3 separate regions of the Homo sapiens genome follow, and regions 1 and 2 are each linked to region 3. The links come from fine-mapping of genetic effects on gene expression. A gene starts in region 3. Each other region holds a variant in brackets. All regions are shown on one strand. Distances are between the middles of the regions.

What was found. PIP is the estimated chance that this variant, and not a neighbour inherited with it, causes the effect.
Region 1: its variant is the best candidate, but not a certain one, in a credible set for the expression of FXYD7 in blood mononuclear cells (TOPMed, PIP 0.54).
Region 2: its variant is the best candidate, but not a certain one, in a credible set for the expression of FXYD7 in whole blood (INTERVAL, PIP 0.83).

What each region holds. Positions count from the first base shown.
Region 1 is chr19:35,185,575-35,190,799 of GRCh38, forward strand. No RefSeq gene overlaps it. Among named protein-coding and RNA genes, the nearest start is that of FXYD5, 33 kb to the left of the region's middle. The variant T/A (reference allele first, on the strand shown) is at 2,662.
Region 2 is chr19:35,164,402-35,169,610 of GRCh38, forward strand. FXYD5 (FXYD domain containing ion transport regulator 5) reads left to right here. Exons shown (of 9, transcript NM_014164.6): 7 at 1,741-1,770; 8 at 1,850-1,924; 9 at 5,165-5,209. Among named protein-coding and RNA genes, the nearest start is that of FXYD5, 12 kb to the left of the region's middle. The variant T/C (reference allele first, on the strand shown) is at 3,324.
Region 3 is chr19:35,141,228-35,146,452 of GRCh38, forward strand. FXYD7 (FXYD domain containing ion transport regulator 7) reads left to right here and starts at 2,028. Exons shown (of 6, transcript NM_022006.2): 1 at 2,028-2,137. The coding sequence starts at 2,107. It overlaps FXYD1 (FXYD domain containing ion transport regulator 1), which reads left to right. Exons shown (of 8, transcript NM_021902.4): 5 at 309-345; 6 at 1,245-1,294; 7 at 1,493-1,544; 8 at 1,690-1,882. The coding sequence ends at 1,515. RefSeq lists silencers at 1-38, 149-368 and enhancers at 3-565, 1,689-2,249, 2,250-2,811.

The DNA of each region.
Region 1 (5,225 bases), 44 kb after region 3:
AAAAATAACTTCCAGCATTCCTTAGCACTGTAGGATGACTATAATTAGCAATGATTTATTGCACCATTCCTCAGGACAATCAACCAGTCTGCTGATGGCTAATTAATTACGTCGAACTGTCTCTTTTTTAATTTTCTTTTCTTTTTTGAGACAGAGTCTCGCTCTTGTCACCTAGGCTTGAGTGCAATGGAACAATCTCGGCTCATTGCAACCTCCACCTCCCAGGTTCAAGAGATTCTCCTGCCTCAGCCTCCTGAGTAGCTGGGATTATAGGCATCCATCACCACACCCAGCTAATTTTCATATTTTTAGTGAAGACAGGGTTTCATCATGTTGGCCAGGCTGGTCTCAAACTGCTGACCTCAGGTGTTCCACCCATCGCAGCCTCCCAAAATGTTGGGATTACAGGTGTGAGCCACTGCGCCCAGCCACATTGAACTGTTCCTGTCATGGAAAGGGCAACTCTTTTTTCTTATTTTAATTTTTTAATTTTTGTAATAGAATTCGCTTACCATACAATTCACATGCCATACAGTTCACACATTTAAAGCATACAAGCCGATCTGATTATTTCACATTGCATGCCTGTATCAAAACATCTCATGTTCTCCATAAATAAATACACCTATGATGTACCCACAGCAATTAAAAATTTTTAAAAATCATGTACAAGTCAATGGTTTTTAGTATATCCATAGATATGTACAGCCATCATCACGATCAATTTAAAAACATTTTTTTTTTTTGAGAGAGAGTCTTGCTCTGTCACCCAGGCTGGAGTGCAGTGGCATGATCACGGCTCACTGCAAACTTGGCCTCCCGGGTTTACGCCTTTCTCCTGCCTCAGCCTCCCGAGTAGCTGGGACTACAGGTGCCCGCCACCACGCCCAGCTAATTTTTTGTATTTTTAGTAGAGCCGGGATTTCACCATGTTAGCCAGGATTGTCTCGATCTCCTGACCTCGTGATCCACCTGCCTCGGCCTCCCAAAGCGCTGGGATTACAGGTGTGAGCCACCGTGCCCAGACCAATTTTAAAATATTTTTATCACCCCCACAAAAGAAACCCAATGCTCCATAGCTATTTTCCTCCTGTTCCCAAATGTCTCAGCCCTAAGCAACCACTAGTCTACTCTCTGTCTCTATATATTTTCCTATTTTGGACATTTCATATAAATGTATTCATATAATATGTGGTGTCTTGTGATTGGCTTCTTTCACTGAATGTAATGTCTTCAAGGTTCATCCGCATCATAGCATGTATCAGTACTATGTTCCTTTCTATGGCTGAATAATATTTCATTGTGTGGATTTACCACATATTGGGGTTTTTTTTGTTTTTTTTTTTACAGACCCCGCCCCCCCAAATATTGTTTATGCCTCCATCAGTTTGTAGATATTTGGTTTTGTTTTCACCTTTTGGCTATTATGAATAATATGAAAATAAACTTATGTATTTGTTATTATGTGGACATAAGTTTTCATTTCTCTTAGGAATAAAATTGCTGGGTCAAATGGTGACTGCATTTTTAACAGTTTGAGGAACTACTGGACTGTTTTCCATAGTGGCTGCAGTGATGAGGTGTGGTGGCTCACGCCTGTGATCCCAGCATTTTGGGAGGCCGAGGGGGGCAGATCATCTAAGGTCAGGAGTACGAGACCAGCCTGGCCAACATGGCGAAACCCCGTCTCTACTAAAAATACAAAAATTAGCCTGGCGTGCTGGCAGGCACCTCTAATCCCAACTACTCGGGAACCTGAGGCAAGATAATCCCCTTGAACCTGGGAGGCAGAGGTTGCAGTGAACCGAGATCACACTGCTGCATTCCAGCCTGGGCAACAGAGGGAGACTCTGTCTCAAAAGAAAAAAAAAGTTTTGTTGAACTAACTCATGAAGCCATCTGGTTTAAGACTTTTCTGTGTCCATTAAAATGATCATGTGGTTTTGTAATTTATTCTGTTGATATGGTGTATTACACTAATTTTCAGATGTGAAGCCACTGTTACATTCCTGGAATAAGTCCCACTTGGTCGTGGTCTATAACACTTTTTATATGTCTCTGGATTTAGTTTGCTAGTATTGTGTTAAGGATATTTGCATTTATATTTATAAGAGATATTTGTCTGTAGTTTTCTTGTGTCTTTCTCTGGTTTTTGTACTGGGGTAATACTGGTCCCAAATAATCCACTGGAAAGCGTTGCCTCCTTTTTTTAATTTTTGCAAGAGTTTGAGAAGAATTGGTATTAGCTCTTCTTTAAATTTTTAGAAAAATCTGCCAGTGAAGCTATCTGGTTCTTGGTGTGTGTGTGTGTGTGTGTGTGTGTGTGTGTGTGTATGTGTGTGTGTGTCTTTGGTCATTAATTCAATCTCTTTACTTATTAGAGGACTATTCAAATTGTCTGATTTCTCTTGAATCAGTTTCAGTAGTATATGTCTTCTAATAATTTATTTCAACTGGGCGCAGTGGCTCACGCCAGTCCCAACACTTTGAAAGGCCAAGGCAGGTGGATCACTTGAGGTCAGGAGTTCGAGACCAGCCTGGCCAACATGGTGAAACCCCATTTCTGCTAAAAATACAAAAATTAGCCAGGCATGGTGGTGGGTACCTGTAATCCCAGCTACTTTGGAGGCTGAGCAGGATAATCGCTTGAATCCGGGAGGC[T/A]GAGGTTGCAGTGAGCCAAAATCACACCACTGCACTCCATCCTGGGCGACAGAGCAAGACTTCATCTCAAAAAAAAAAAAAAAAAAAAAGAATTTACGGCCAGCACGATGGCTCATGCCTGTAATCCCAGCACTTTGGGAGGCTGAGGAGGGTGGATCACTAGGTCAGGAGTTCAAGACCAGCCTGGCCTCAAGACCAGCCTGGCCAACATAGTGAAACCCTGTCTCTACTAAAAATACAAAAAAATTAGCCAAGAGTGGTGGCGGGCGCCTGTAGTCCCAGCTATTTGGGAGGCTGAGGCAGGAGAATCGCTTGAACCCAGGAGGTGGAGATTGCAGATCGCCACCATGCCTGGCTAATTTTTGTATTTTTAGTAGAGACAGGGTTTCGCCATGTTGGCCAGGCTGGTCTCGAACTCCTGACCTCAGGTGATCCTCTCACCTGAACCTCCCAAAGTTCTATGATTACAGGCATGAGCCACTGTGCCCAGCCGCATGATTTTGATTTTAATTTTAAAATCAAAATTTTATACAGATTTGTTTTGTTGCCTAGTGCAGGTTCTATCCTACAGAATATTCTCCGTGCAGTCGAGAAGATTGTGTATTCTGCTTTTGTTGGGAGAAGTGTGCTATAGTTGTCTGTTATATCTGGTTGATTAATACTGTTCAGATCTTCCATTTTCTTGTTGATTTTATGCCTAGTTGTTCTATCCATTATTGGAAGTGAGGTACTGAAGTCTCCAACTATTATTGTGGATTTGTTCATTTCTCTATTCATTTTTATTAGTTTTTGCTTTATGTATTTTGGTGCTTTATTATTAGATGTATATGTGTTTATATTGTTATATATTCTGATGGACTGACCGCCTTATCATTATACAATGCTTCTCTTTATCTGTAATAACTTTTTTGTTACAAAGCTTATTTTTTCTGACGTTAGTATTGCCACTCCAGCTTTCTTGTAGTCACTGCATGATATATTGATATATTGTCTTTCATCATTTTACTTTACATTTTTGAATCTTACATGTTTTTCCTATAGATAGCTTTTGGCTGTATCTTGGTTTTTAAAAAAAATCTAGTCTGAAATATTTGACTTTTAATTGAATTGTTCATTTCATCAACATTTAATGTTATTATTTATACAATTGGATTTACATCTGCCATATTAGCTTGTGTTTCCTACAAAATTTCTTTATTAGTGCCAGGGGTTTTTTGTTTTATTTATTGATTGATTTTATATTTATTGAGATTTTCTACATAAACAATCATTTCAACTGGGGATGGGAACAGTTTTATTTTTTCCTTCCCAATCTATATGCCTCTTACTTCCATTTCTTGACTTATTACACTGGCTAAGACTTTCAATATGATGTTGAATAGAAATGGTGAACATGCTTGTCTTGTTCCCAATCTTAAGAAAGAAAGCATTCATTTTTCACTGTTTGGTATGATATTAGCTGTAGGCTTTTTGATGCTCTTTATCAGGTTGATGAAGTTCTCTTCTATTCCTAGTTTGCTAGGATTATTTTTTGCAAAACAAAACAAAACATGTATGAGTGTTTTATTTTGTCAATACTTTGTCTGCACCTATTGATATAATCATGATTTTTCTTCTTTAGATGGTTAATATGGTAATAGTGATTGATTTTAAAAAATTGGACCATTGTTGCATTCTTAGTATAAATCCCATTTGGTCATAGTTTATTGTATTTATTCATTTATTATTATTATTATTTTGAGACAGAGTTTCACTCTTGTTGCCCAGGCTGGAGTGCAATGGCAGGATCTCGGCTCACCCCAACCTCTGCCTCCTGGGTTCAAGTGATTCTCCTGCCTCATCCTCCTAAGTAGCTGGGATTACAGGCTGTGCACCACCATGCCTGGCTAATTTTGTATTTTTAGTAGAGATGAGTTTTCTCCATGTTGGTCAGTCTGGTCTTGAACTCCTGATCTCAGGTGATCCGCCCACCTCAGACTCCCAAAGTGCTGGGATTACAGGTGTGAGCCACCGCGCCCGGCCGGTCATAGTTTACTACTCATTTTACATATTGCCGAGTTCAATTTGCTAACATTTTATTGAGTATTTTTGCATCTATATTCATGAGGAGTATTTTAGTTGTGTTTATTATTATTTTTTGTACTGTCTATCTGGTTTGTCATCAGGGTAATGCTGGCTTCATAACATGAGTTGGAGAGTATTTCTCCTTTTGTATTTTCTGGAAGAAATTATGAAGAATTAGTGCTATTTCTTCTTTAAATTACTTATTTAAAACCATTGAAACCACCTGGGCCAGGAGATTTTTTAAAATGGCATTAACTATACATGCAATTTATTTAATAGTTACTAGACTATTCATATTATCTATTTCAACAGTGGTGAATGTAGTAGCTGGTAGTTTTTGAGAAATTGGTCCATTTCATCTAAATTTTGATATTTATGTGTATAGAGTTATTACTGATATTCCTTTATAAGCTTTTTAATAATTATAGGGTCTGTGGTGATAGCTGTCCTCTTTCTACCCTAATATTGATAATCCCTCCCTTCTCTCTCTTCTCTCTTTA
Region 2 (5,209 bases), 23 kb after region 3:
TGTCTGAATAGATAAGTGAATGCATAAATTATTGCTGCATACAAACCACCTAAAAACTCAGTGGCTTAAAAGGATAACCATTTATTTAGCTCTCATTTCTGCAATTTGGAAATCTAGGGTGTGCTCAGCTGGCTGGTTCTTCTGGTTTCAGCTGGACTTACTCATGCGTCTGAGGTCAGTTGTGGGTCAGCAAGGACCTCTGTTTCTAGGGGCAATTTGATTCTTTCCCTGGTGATCTTATCCACCACTTCCTGCCCAGTCAGCCCCCCAGTGAATGAATGGAAATGATACGCCCATGGGTCACATAGAGAGCCCATTCATCCATTCATTCAACAAATAGTCACTGAGTACTTGTGTGCTAGGCTAGTTCTAGGGGACAGAGATAGAGTGGTGAACAAGCCAGAAAAAATCTCTGCCCTCATGGAACTACTATTCTAGTGGTAAGAGAAACACAACAAGAAATAATCATAATTATGTATCAGTTGATTTCAACTTGCTATCAAGAAAAGTAAAGTAGGGTTAGAGAGTGACTGGGGAGTACAGGTTGAGTATTCCTTATCCAAAATGCTTTGGACCAGGAGACTTTCAGATTTCAGATTTTAGAATATTTGCATTATACTTACCAGTTCAACTTTCCTGACCCAAAAATCTGAAGTCCAAAATGTTCCAGTGGGCATTTCCTTTCGGTGTCATGTCAGACTGTTACTGGAAAGGGGTTCCGATCCAGACCCCAAGAAAGGGCTGTTGGATCTTGCACAAAAAAAGAATTCAGAGAGTCCATAGAGTTTATTTAGAAAGTAAAGGAATAAAGAATGGCTACTCTATAGGCAGAGCAGCCCCACAGGCTGCTGGTTGCCTGTTTTTATGGTTGTTTCTTCGTTATATGCTAAACAAGGGGTGGATTATTCATGAGTTTTCTGGGAAAGGGGTGGGCAATTCCCAGAACTGAGGATTCCTCCCCTTTTTATACTGTATAGGGTAACTTCCTGATGTTGCCATGGCATTTGAAACTGTCATGGTGCTGGTAGGAGTGCCTTTTAGCATGCTAATGTATTATAACTAATGTATAATGAGCTGTGAGGATGACCAGAGGTCACTGTCATTGCCATCTTGGTTTTGGTGGGTTTTAACTGGCTTCTTTACTGCAACCTGTTTTATCAGCAAGGCCTTTATGACCTGTATCTCGTGCCGACCTCCTATCTCATCCTGTGACTAACAATGTCTAACCTCTGGGGAATACAGCCCAGTAGGTCTCAGCCTTATTTTACCCTATTCGAGATGGAGTTGCTCTGGTTCAAACACCCCTGACATGACATCAAAAAGTGTCAGATTTGGGGACATTTTGGATTTTGGATTTGGGGATTAGGGATAGTCAACCTGTATTTCATATACAAAACCAGGGAGGGCCCCACTGGGAAGGGAGTGAAGGAGGGAGCCATGCGGATGTCTAGGGAAAGTGTGTTCCAGGCAGAGGAAACAGCCAGTGCAAAGGCCCTGAGGTGAGAAGGTGTCTGCATGTTCAACAGCAGGGAGGCCAGTAGGGCTGGAGTGCAGGGAGTGAGGGGGATAGGAAGGAAATGAGATTAGAGGAATAATGGGAGCCAGATTGTGTGCCATGGTGAAGATTTTGGGTTTTGTTCTAAGGGTACCCAGGTATCCCCCTTTCCTGACTTTGCCATTCACGTATTCACTTCACAAACCTTTGCTGAACCCTGACTTGCTCTTTGTCTGCCTCTCCAGGTTTTCATGAGGATGACCCCTTCTTCTATGGTAAGTTATCCACAGGAAGATGTGGGGGAAGGAAAGGTGAGGTCCGTCTGACTCTACCCCTTCATTTTTCTCTCTGCAGATGAACACACCCTCCGGAAACGGGGGCTGTTGGTCGCAGCTGTGCTGTTCATCACAGGCATCATCATCCTCACCAGTGAGAACTGGGGTTGGGTGGGAAGGACACCAAGACCAGGAGGGGGACTTATGACGGAGGGCTGGGTTCTCAAAGGTCCCTGGGCAATTTTGTTTTAAATGAGGTATCTATTAGCTGCATATACATACAAACCACCACAGAATTCAGTGGTTTAAAATAATGACCATTTATTGAGCTCTCAATACCACAGTTTGGAAACATAGGCTGGGCTCAGCTGGGTGATTCTTCTGGTCTCAACTGGATTTACTCTTGCATCTGAGTTCAGTTGTGGGTCAGCAGGAAACTTTGTTTCTGGGGTGCCTTGGCTCTTTGCCACATCATCTTATCCTTCACTAAGCTAGCCTGGGCTTGTTCGCATGGTGGTGGCAGGGATCTAAGATAGAGTGAATGCATGCAGGCTCAGAACTGGCCATTATCACTTCTGCCTCATTCCATAGGTCAAAGCAAGTCATGAGGCTGGGTTTCATTCAAGGAAATAGACTCCACCTCTTGATGGGAAGATAGGCAAAGTCACATGGCAAAGGACATGGATACTGACAGGGAGGGGTAGAGACTAAGGGCCATTTGGCGGTCAGCATACCACCCCAGCAGTCACAAGCCCACTGCACCCAGGCCTGGCAGGGAACAAGGGCTGAAAAAGGCTGTGTCAGGAGGAGATAACTGAGGATTAAATGCCTCATGGAACAACCCCACCCACTCAATCCAGCAAGAATAGAGGCTTGAAGCAGCCAGAGTAACTACTCTTTTAAGAGCTTAATGTTTCTGTAAAATCTTTTGGTACTCAAATGTTGACAGCTGTGTTGATCAGGGTCATGGCAGGTGGCAGAAGGACCTGCAAACGATTAACTGGAGAAAGTTTAATAGAGTGATATCTCTGGAGGTACAGGCAGGGCAATGAGATGGTGCAGTGCCCTAGGACTAGCAAGGATGGGGACCTGTTATCCCCCAGCCTGAGGGACAAGAGGAGGCACTGGCTTTGCAGGAGGCCTGGTGAGAGATGGAACTGGAGGTGGGGCTGCTGGCAGGAGCTGTGGCCTCAGAAAGAGGGTTCCAGCCACTGCCTCACTTGTGACCAAACCAGGAGGGAGCAGGGGTGGTGGGGATCAGATACCTAAACCTCCCTCTCCTCCCACCCCCCTGTCTCCTGCCAATGCTTAACCAGAGGGCAAGGGGCCCAGGGCCCCATGCAGGGAGAGGAAGTTGTGGGGAAAGGCAGAATAACAAGCAGAGAAACTAATTTTTTAAAAAGGTTTTTAAAATGTTGTGGGTGAAATAAAACACGAGCTATCAGTTAATCTGTATAACCAATGCCAAGTTTCATTACCTCTCTTGTCCAACTTCCTCATCAAGAAAATGAGCATAGCCACATCTTTTTTTGCCTTAAGGGGAGAGGCAGAAT[T/C]CTAACAATCATAAGACATGATTCCTGATGTGTGCGTGATCCCCACTGAATCTGAGAGTCAAGCACTGTTGCCTCGGTCATACAACATGTATGTGTTGATCCTGACTTTGCACCAGGTCCTATTCTCACCCCAGTGGAGAAGTTAAGGCTCAGAGAGTTAAGGAGTTTGCCTAAGGTCACACAGCACAGAAGAGTCAGTAAATTCATTTGCTGGCGGGACACGGTGGCTCACTCCTGTAATCCCAGTACTTTGGGAGGCCAAGGTGGGAGGATGGCTTGAGCCCAGGGGTTCAAGACCAGCATGGGCAAAATAGCAAGACCCTATCTCTACACAAATAATTTTTTTTACTTAAAAAAAAAAAAGAATCAGTGAAGGATTGGACCCAGGTTTGTGTGAGAGCAGAGCCTGAACGTTAGCTCTGGGGCCATGTATTTTTCCAACAGCAAATATTTGTGGGCTCCTAGTCTGTGCCAAACCTGTGCTGGGTGATGCTGGGGGCATGGTGGTGACAAGCAGCCCTGGTCCCTGTCCTCAGGAGCTCACATCTGGTCGAAGATGATAAGCAAATAAATGCATGAATGAGTGGATACAGAGAAAGATATTTGCCAAATAAAGCAGAGTGACAGGGAAGAGAGGGGTGGGGAGAGAAGCCCTCCCTGGAGTGGTGAAATTGGAACTGATCCCTGATGATGAGATGAATCACCAGGTAGAGAGAGCAGCAAGTGCCAAGCCCTGGAGGCAGGAATGAGCTGCGCCCATTGCTATAGCAGCAGAGGAGGCAAAGTAGCCAGGACAGGGTAGGTTGGGGGAGAGGAGAAGACGAGGCCAGAGAGCTGAGGGGCTGGAGGAGGCAAGGGTGGCAGGTGTTTTCTAAAGTACCCTTGGCTTCTAAGTTCCCCCTCCCTCACTCTGGAGCAGCCACAGATGAGTCTCTGGAACCCATCTGTGTCCTCGTACCTCAAGGCCTTTGCGCTGCTGTTCCCTCTGCCTGTAACACCCTTCCTCCAGGTGTCTCCCTTACGTCCTTCAGACCTTTGTTCAAATGTCACCTCCTTGGCAGGCCACAGTGGTTCACGTATGTAATCCCAGGACTTTGGGAGGCTGAGGCAGGTGGATCCCTTGAGGCCAGGAGTTCAAGACCAGCTTGGCCAACATGGTGAAACCCTGTCTTTACTAAAAATACAAAAATTAGCTGGGCTTGGTGGCACATGCCTGTCATCCCAGCTACTCGGGAGGCTGAGGCGGGAGAATCGCTTGAATCCAGGAGGTGGGGGTTGCAGTGAGCTGAGATTGTGCCACTGCATTCCAGCCTGGGTGACACAGCAAGACTCTGTCTCAAAAAAAAAAAAAAAAAGTAACCTCCTCATTGAAGCCCCAGTAGCCATCCCTGTGAGGATGAGCCCAGCTCCTGGGCCTCCATGCCTCCTTCCTGGCCTTATTTCCCTTTGTAGGACTTAACACCCTCCCACTTAGCACCTTCATACATTTGATTTTGTAATTTTTCTCCTTGTTGGTCTTTCCCCATAGAAAGACAACTCTGCCAGGGCAGGGATTTTTTTCTTTGTCCTCAACTGTGTTCTTAGTGCCTGAATGAATGAATAAGTGAGATACAAAATAATGGGAGTTTCCAAACGGCTCATCTGTGAGCCTGTGTGGGAAGGGCCTCTCGCAGGGCCCCAGCACTGGCTGTTCTCGGTGTGTTTCTCCATCATTTGTTTATGGAGTTGCCTTTGAGTTTCCCGAGGGGCAGGGTTGATCAATCTGGTTCCCCAGCCCCACAACACACGATAAGAATCAATATCACTCTAGCTCGTGACTGAATCATTTCCTTCACCCACAGGTGGCAAGTGCAGGCAGCTGTCCCGGTTATGCCGGAATCGTTGCA
Region 3 (5,225 bases):
CCTCTACCCCGCCTCTCCCTGGCCCCACCTCTCTCTGGCCCCGCCTCTCCCTGGCCCCGCCTCTCCCTAGCCCCCCTCTCCCTGGCCCCGCTTCTCCCTGGTCCCGCCCCTCCCTGGCCCCGCCCCGCCCCAACCCCTCCCAGGCCTTGCCCCGCCTACCCTGCCTTGGTTCCCCGGCCCCCGGTCTCGCCTCTAGCCCCGCCCCGTCCCCCAAGCCCCGCCCCTCGCGAGGGCGAGCTGGAGCTACAGCGCCGCTTGGCGCCCGCCGGGAGGGAGCCTCAGCTTCTCCTACCTCTCCACGCCCACAGGCAGAAGATGCCGGTGCAAGTTCAACCAGCAGCAGAGGTAAGACGCCCCTCCCCGCCCTCCTTCGCCCGCTCCTGCTCTGGAGGGCGCCGCGGGTGAGGCGGGGAGTACCCCTGACCCGCAGCCCGATCCCCGTCAGCGACTATGTATTAAGCACCTACTATGTGCCATGGCCCAAGCCTGGCCCTGGGACCAAGCGAGGAAAAAACCTCCCGCCCTTCCTGGCCGAGCTCCCAGCCTAGTGGAGGCGGTGGCCGTGGGTTCCAACAGCCCCACAGATAGAAAAATCACAAAGCGTGATAACACAAAGTGCAGGAAAGAAGAAACGGCGGTGAAATGAGATCATCTCACACGCGGCCCAGTTTAGCTTAGAGTCTTGTTCCTAGCTCTTTGATTCCTCTTCGAATAAAATGTTAAAGCATGGACAATGTATGAATATGTTAGAACAATTATAGATATTATCATAAGTAGTAGCTAATATTTACTGGGTGTGTACCACGTGTTAGATACGGTTTCACTTCCTCTGGGAGGGAGGTGCTGTTATTAACCCCATTTGACAGATGAGGAAACTAAGGCACAGGGAGGTAAAGTCACTTTGTTCAAGATCACTCAAGTGGAAGATGGGGGGTTCTGGGTTTCCAACCCAGGCCATCTCATGGCAGTCTGCCAAGTCCCCATGACTATCCCTCCCCCACCAACTTCACATCCCTGCCCCCAAATCCGCGGAGGTACTCACTGTTAACCAGCTTAGAAGCCCCCTGCCAGCACATAAGCTGCTCCTGGGTGCTCCTCATTTCTGGCGGACCCCGAGCCTGCTCTTCGTCCATATCTGGGCCTAGTTACACCAATCTGGGAAAGGAGGCTTGTACTGGGGGGTTCCTAGAAGGGCAGCCTCTCCCCCTTTCCATCCCGAAATCCCTCTGCCTCTGTCTTCCCAGGACTGGGGAACCCGATGAAGAGGAGGGAACTTTCCGCAGCTCCATCCGCCGTGAGTCTGGGGAGACTGCGGGTATTCTGGGGAGAGGGCTGGTTCCAAGGACCGCTTTTCCCGGCCCTCCCTGGCTGCGTAGAGGGAAGGGCTGGATCTGAAAGCGGAGGGCGGGGAGTTGCCCCGCCGCGGGCCCCACCTGCCCAGGAGCTGGGGATGCCTCTCCAGAATGACCCCCGATCTCCGTGTTCCCCCCAGGTCTGTCCACCCGCAGGCGGTAGAAACACCTGGAGCGATGGAATCCGGCCAGGTGCTGCAGCTCTGACACGGCGGTGGGAGGGAAGGAGGGAGGAAGGAAAGGCGGGAGAGGGAGGGGGCCAAGTGCCAGAGTTGAAGGGCGGCGAGGGGTGGGGCTGGACGTCCCCCCTCGCCTCTCACCCTTTTCACCCTCACAGGACTCCCCTGGCACCTGACATCTCCCACGCTCCACCTGCGCGCCCACCGCCCCCTCCGCCGCCCCTTCCCCAGCCCTGCCCCCGCAGACTCCCCCTGCCGCCAAGACTTCCAATAAAACGTGCGTTCCTCTCGACAGCACTTTGTCGGTCTCGGTCCCTCAGCGCGAAACGCCAGCGCCACTGGGCCCCAGCAGGGGGCGCCCCACCCTAGAGGAAGGGGCGGGGACGACGGTGGTGGGCGGGGGCGGGGGCGGGGGTGGCCTGCACGGGGGCGGGCTCCCCGGGCCCCCATTGGCTGCAGGCCCCCCCACGCCAGGGCTCCCCCCAGCTCCCCCCCACATCGGTCCGTCCTGCTTCCAGCTGCTGCAGCGCGCCTTCGCCGCCAAAGCATCCAGCAGCCCCCTGCTCCGGCCCAGCATGGCGACCCCGACCCAGACCCCCACAAAGGGTGAGCGTCGTTTGGGGAGGGGGTTGCAGGGGGGCTCCGGGATCTGAGAGCCTAGGAGAGAGGGTGTCGGGAGATTCAAGCAATGGTAAGGCAAGGGAGTTGGGGGAGGGAGGTCCGCTCCTCCTGTGGGCGGAAGCCCCTGTAATGCGCCCCCCCGATCGCCCCTCCGGGTCTCTGGGACACCCCCTCCCCGGCAGGCGTCCTGTGCCAGACCTGCGGTTGGAGAGTGGCAGTCCCGGGAGAAGGGATGCTCGGACAGGTCGCTATGGCAACCGGGTGGCTGGTCCCGCACCGTGGTGGTAGCAGACGGGGAAGAGATGAGCTTGCAGGGTGGGAGCGGGTGGGTCTGCGACCAGAGACGTTCTGGAAGATTTCAGGGTCCCTGGGGTGGGCAAGGGAAGGGGAGGAGGTTCATGTCCCTCTTCTTTCCAGTGCTGTCTCCTAGGGTGTCTGTTTCCTGAAACCCTTGACAGCCAGGTTCAGAGGAAAGGAGTGAGAGCTGAAGGAAGAGACAGAGAGAAGGGATATAGCAAGAGACAGACAGGGAGAACCTGGAAGAGACAGAGACCAAGAGAGGCAGGAGATCCAGAGTCACAGATACAAAGACCCAGGAAGACAAATAGATGGACTCAGAGAGATTCCCAGTGGAGGGGAGAGGCTGAGAGCAGTAGACAGAGATGCAGAGAGAGAGAGAAAAAAAAATGAGAGCCTGGGAGATAGTGGGATTGAGACCGCTATGGAGAGAGAAGCAGAGAGACGGAGGGAGAGAGACGGACCCATGGGGAGAGAGGGGAGTAGAAAGAGAAGAAGGGAGCCATGTGGGGTGGGGCCCAAACCACTGCAGTGAGACCCTATGTGTGGGAATGGGGCGATGGGACCCTCCTTCCAGCCCACAGCAGGGGTGTTTTCCAATCCCAGAGGTGCTGTTGGGTATACACCTAGCTGCCCCTACTGCCCCCATCCAGCCACACACTGATTTCCATTCCACACCAATTAACCCAGTTATGCACCCACTTAAACACCCACTTCTACCGTCGCCCCCTAATAGCCCCCACTGCTAATCCTGCTTCTGCAGATGAGCAAGGCACAGACTGCTTCAAGAGGGAGCCAGTGCCCAGCAAGGGTCTCCAGCACTGAGGGCAGGGGACCAGGGGTGCTGAGAAGCCCCTGGCAGTGAAGGGAACCCGAATTCCACTTGGATGGCTCCCTCCCTTCCGCGCTTCCCAGCAGGCGGGGGCTGCTGCACTGAGCCATATCTGCAGAATCCGAAGCAGGGCGGGGGGTGGGGGGGGCTGCAGAGGCTGGAAGCTACCCTAGGGAGGGGGGCAGGGCTGAGGCAGCAGGCCTGGCGGGAGCCCAGGGCTTCTTTTTGCAGAGGTGGTGGTTAGCAGGATCGATGGCAGCAGACGGGCAGAGGTGGGAGGACAGACTCCTCAACCCAACCTCCTCTGCCTCCCCCTTTCCCAGTCACAGCATGACAGGGGACCGCAGGTCTCGGGAAACCCCGGGGGAGGAAAAGCATGTTGTGCATTGCAAGCTGCTTAAGGAAACTAATTAATGAATTGTTGGGGAGCGAGGGGGGAAGAGGGGAGAGTCTCCCTCCACCCTGCCAGAGAACAGGAGGGAGAGTTAGGAGTGAACAGAAGAGGGATGCATGAGCACAGCTGGGTCCGGGTCCCTATCCCTGAAATGGACCCTTAGCTTGGCCAGAAGCCAGTCCTGCAGGGGCAACGGCAGGAGGTGCAAAAGGAGGGGAGAGGGTCAAGATTGAAACCTGCATCTCACACAGGACCTCACAGGGGACCCCACCCAGCCTGGGGTGGCGGGACCTATCACCTCTCTTCACCTCCCAAGATGCCCCAGTTGCCATAGCAACCACCTCCTTCCTGATATCTCTTTGGCAGCTGGCCAGGAGTAGTGCACATTCCTTTGCCTGACTCCTGGCCCCACCCTTAGCCCAGCCACGCCTGAGGGCCCAGGTTGCCGGGGCAGCAGGGACCAGAGGAGGATCTTCCGCATGGAGGAGGATCTTCCACATGGAACACCAGATTCTGGGACAGGGGCTCACCCAGTGGGCTCCCGATAACTTTGGGGAAGGACGGGTGTGTGGAAAACAGACAAGTGAGACAATCCACCTTTTACAGCCTCCTGCAGCCTAGGACTGCCTCATAATCATTCCTTCATTCATTCATCCCAGAAAACTTGAAGAGCCTTTCATAAATGTCAGGATGAACAGCAGTGATGAGTCAAACAAATTTACTCTCTGGTGGGGAAACTTACACAGAGCACAAGGGACCCTGAAGCAGCGTCTCACCATCTTGGCGCTTTTGAGTACTACCGTCACAATTTTTGCTTTATTCAAATATTCCTCACACTGCTATTTATTTAATTTTTTTCCTTAAAAGGATTAGCTTTTTTATTTTTATTTTTTGAGACAAGGTCTCACTCTGTCGCCTAGGCTGGAGTGCAATGGCACGATCACAGCTCACTGCAGCCTCAACATCCTGGGCTCAATCTATCCTCCTGCCTCAGCCTCCCAAGTAGCTGGGACTACAAGGCACTTCTGCTACACCCAGCTAATTTTTGTATTTTTCATAGAGACTGCTTTTGCTATGTTTCCCAGCCTGGTCTCAAACTTCTGGGCTCAAGCAATTCACCCACTTTGGCTTCCCAAAGTGCTTAGGATGACAGGCGTGGGCCACCATGCCCAACCCAGGATTAGCTTTTGAAAACAACGAGCTTTATTTTATAGCACCATCACAACTGGAAAATTAATCTTCTTTTTTTTTTTGAGACAGAGTCTCGCTCTGTCATCCAGGCTGGAGTGCAGTGGCACGATCTTGGCTTACTGCAACCTCTGCCTCCCGGGTTCAAGCAATTCTTCTGCCTCAGCCTCCCAAGTAGCTGGGACTAGCAGCGGCACACCACCACACCCAGCTAATTTTTGTATTGTTAGTACAGATGGGGTTTCACCATATTGGCCAGGCTGGTCTCAAACTCCTGACCTCGTGATCCGCCCACCTTGTATTCCCAAAGTGCTGGGATTACAGGCATGAATCACTGTGCCCAGCTGGAAAATTCATCTTCT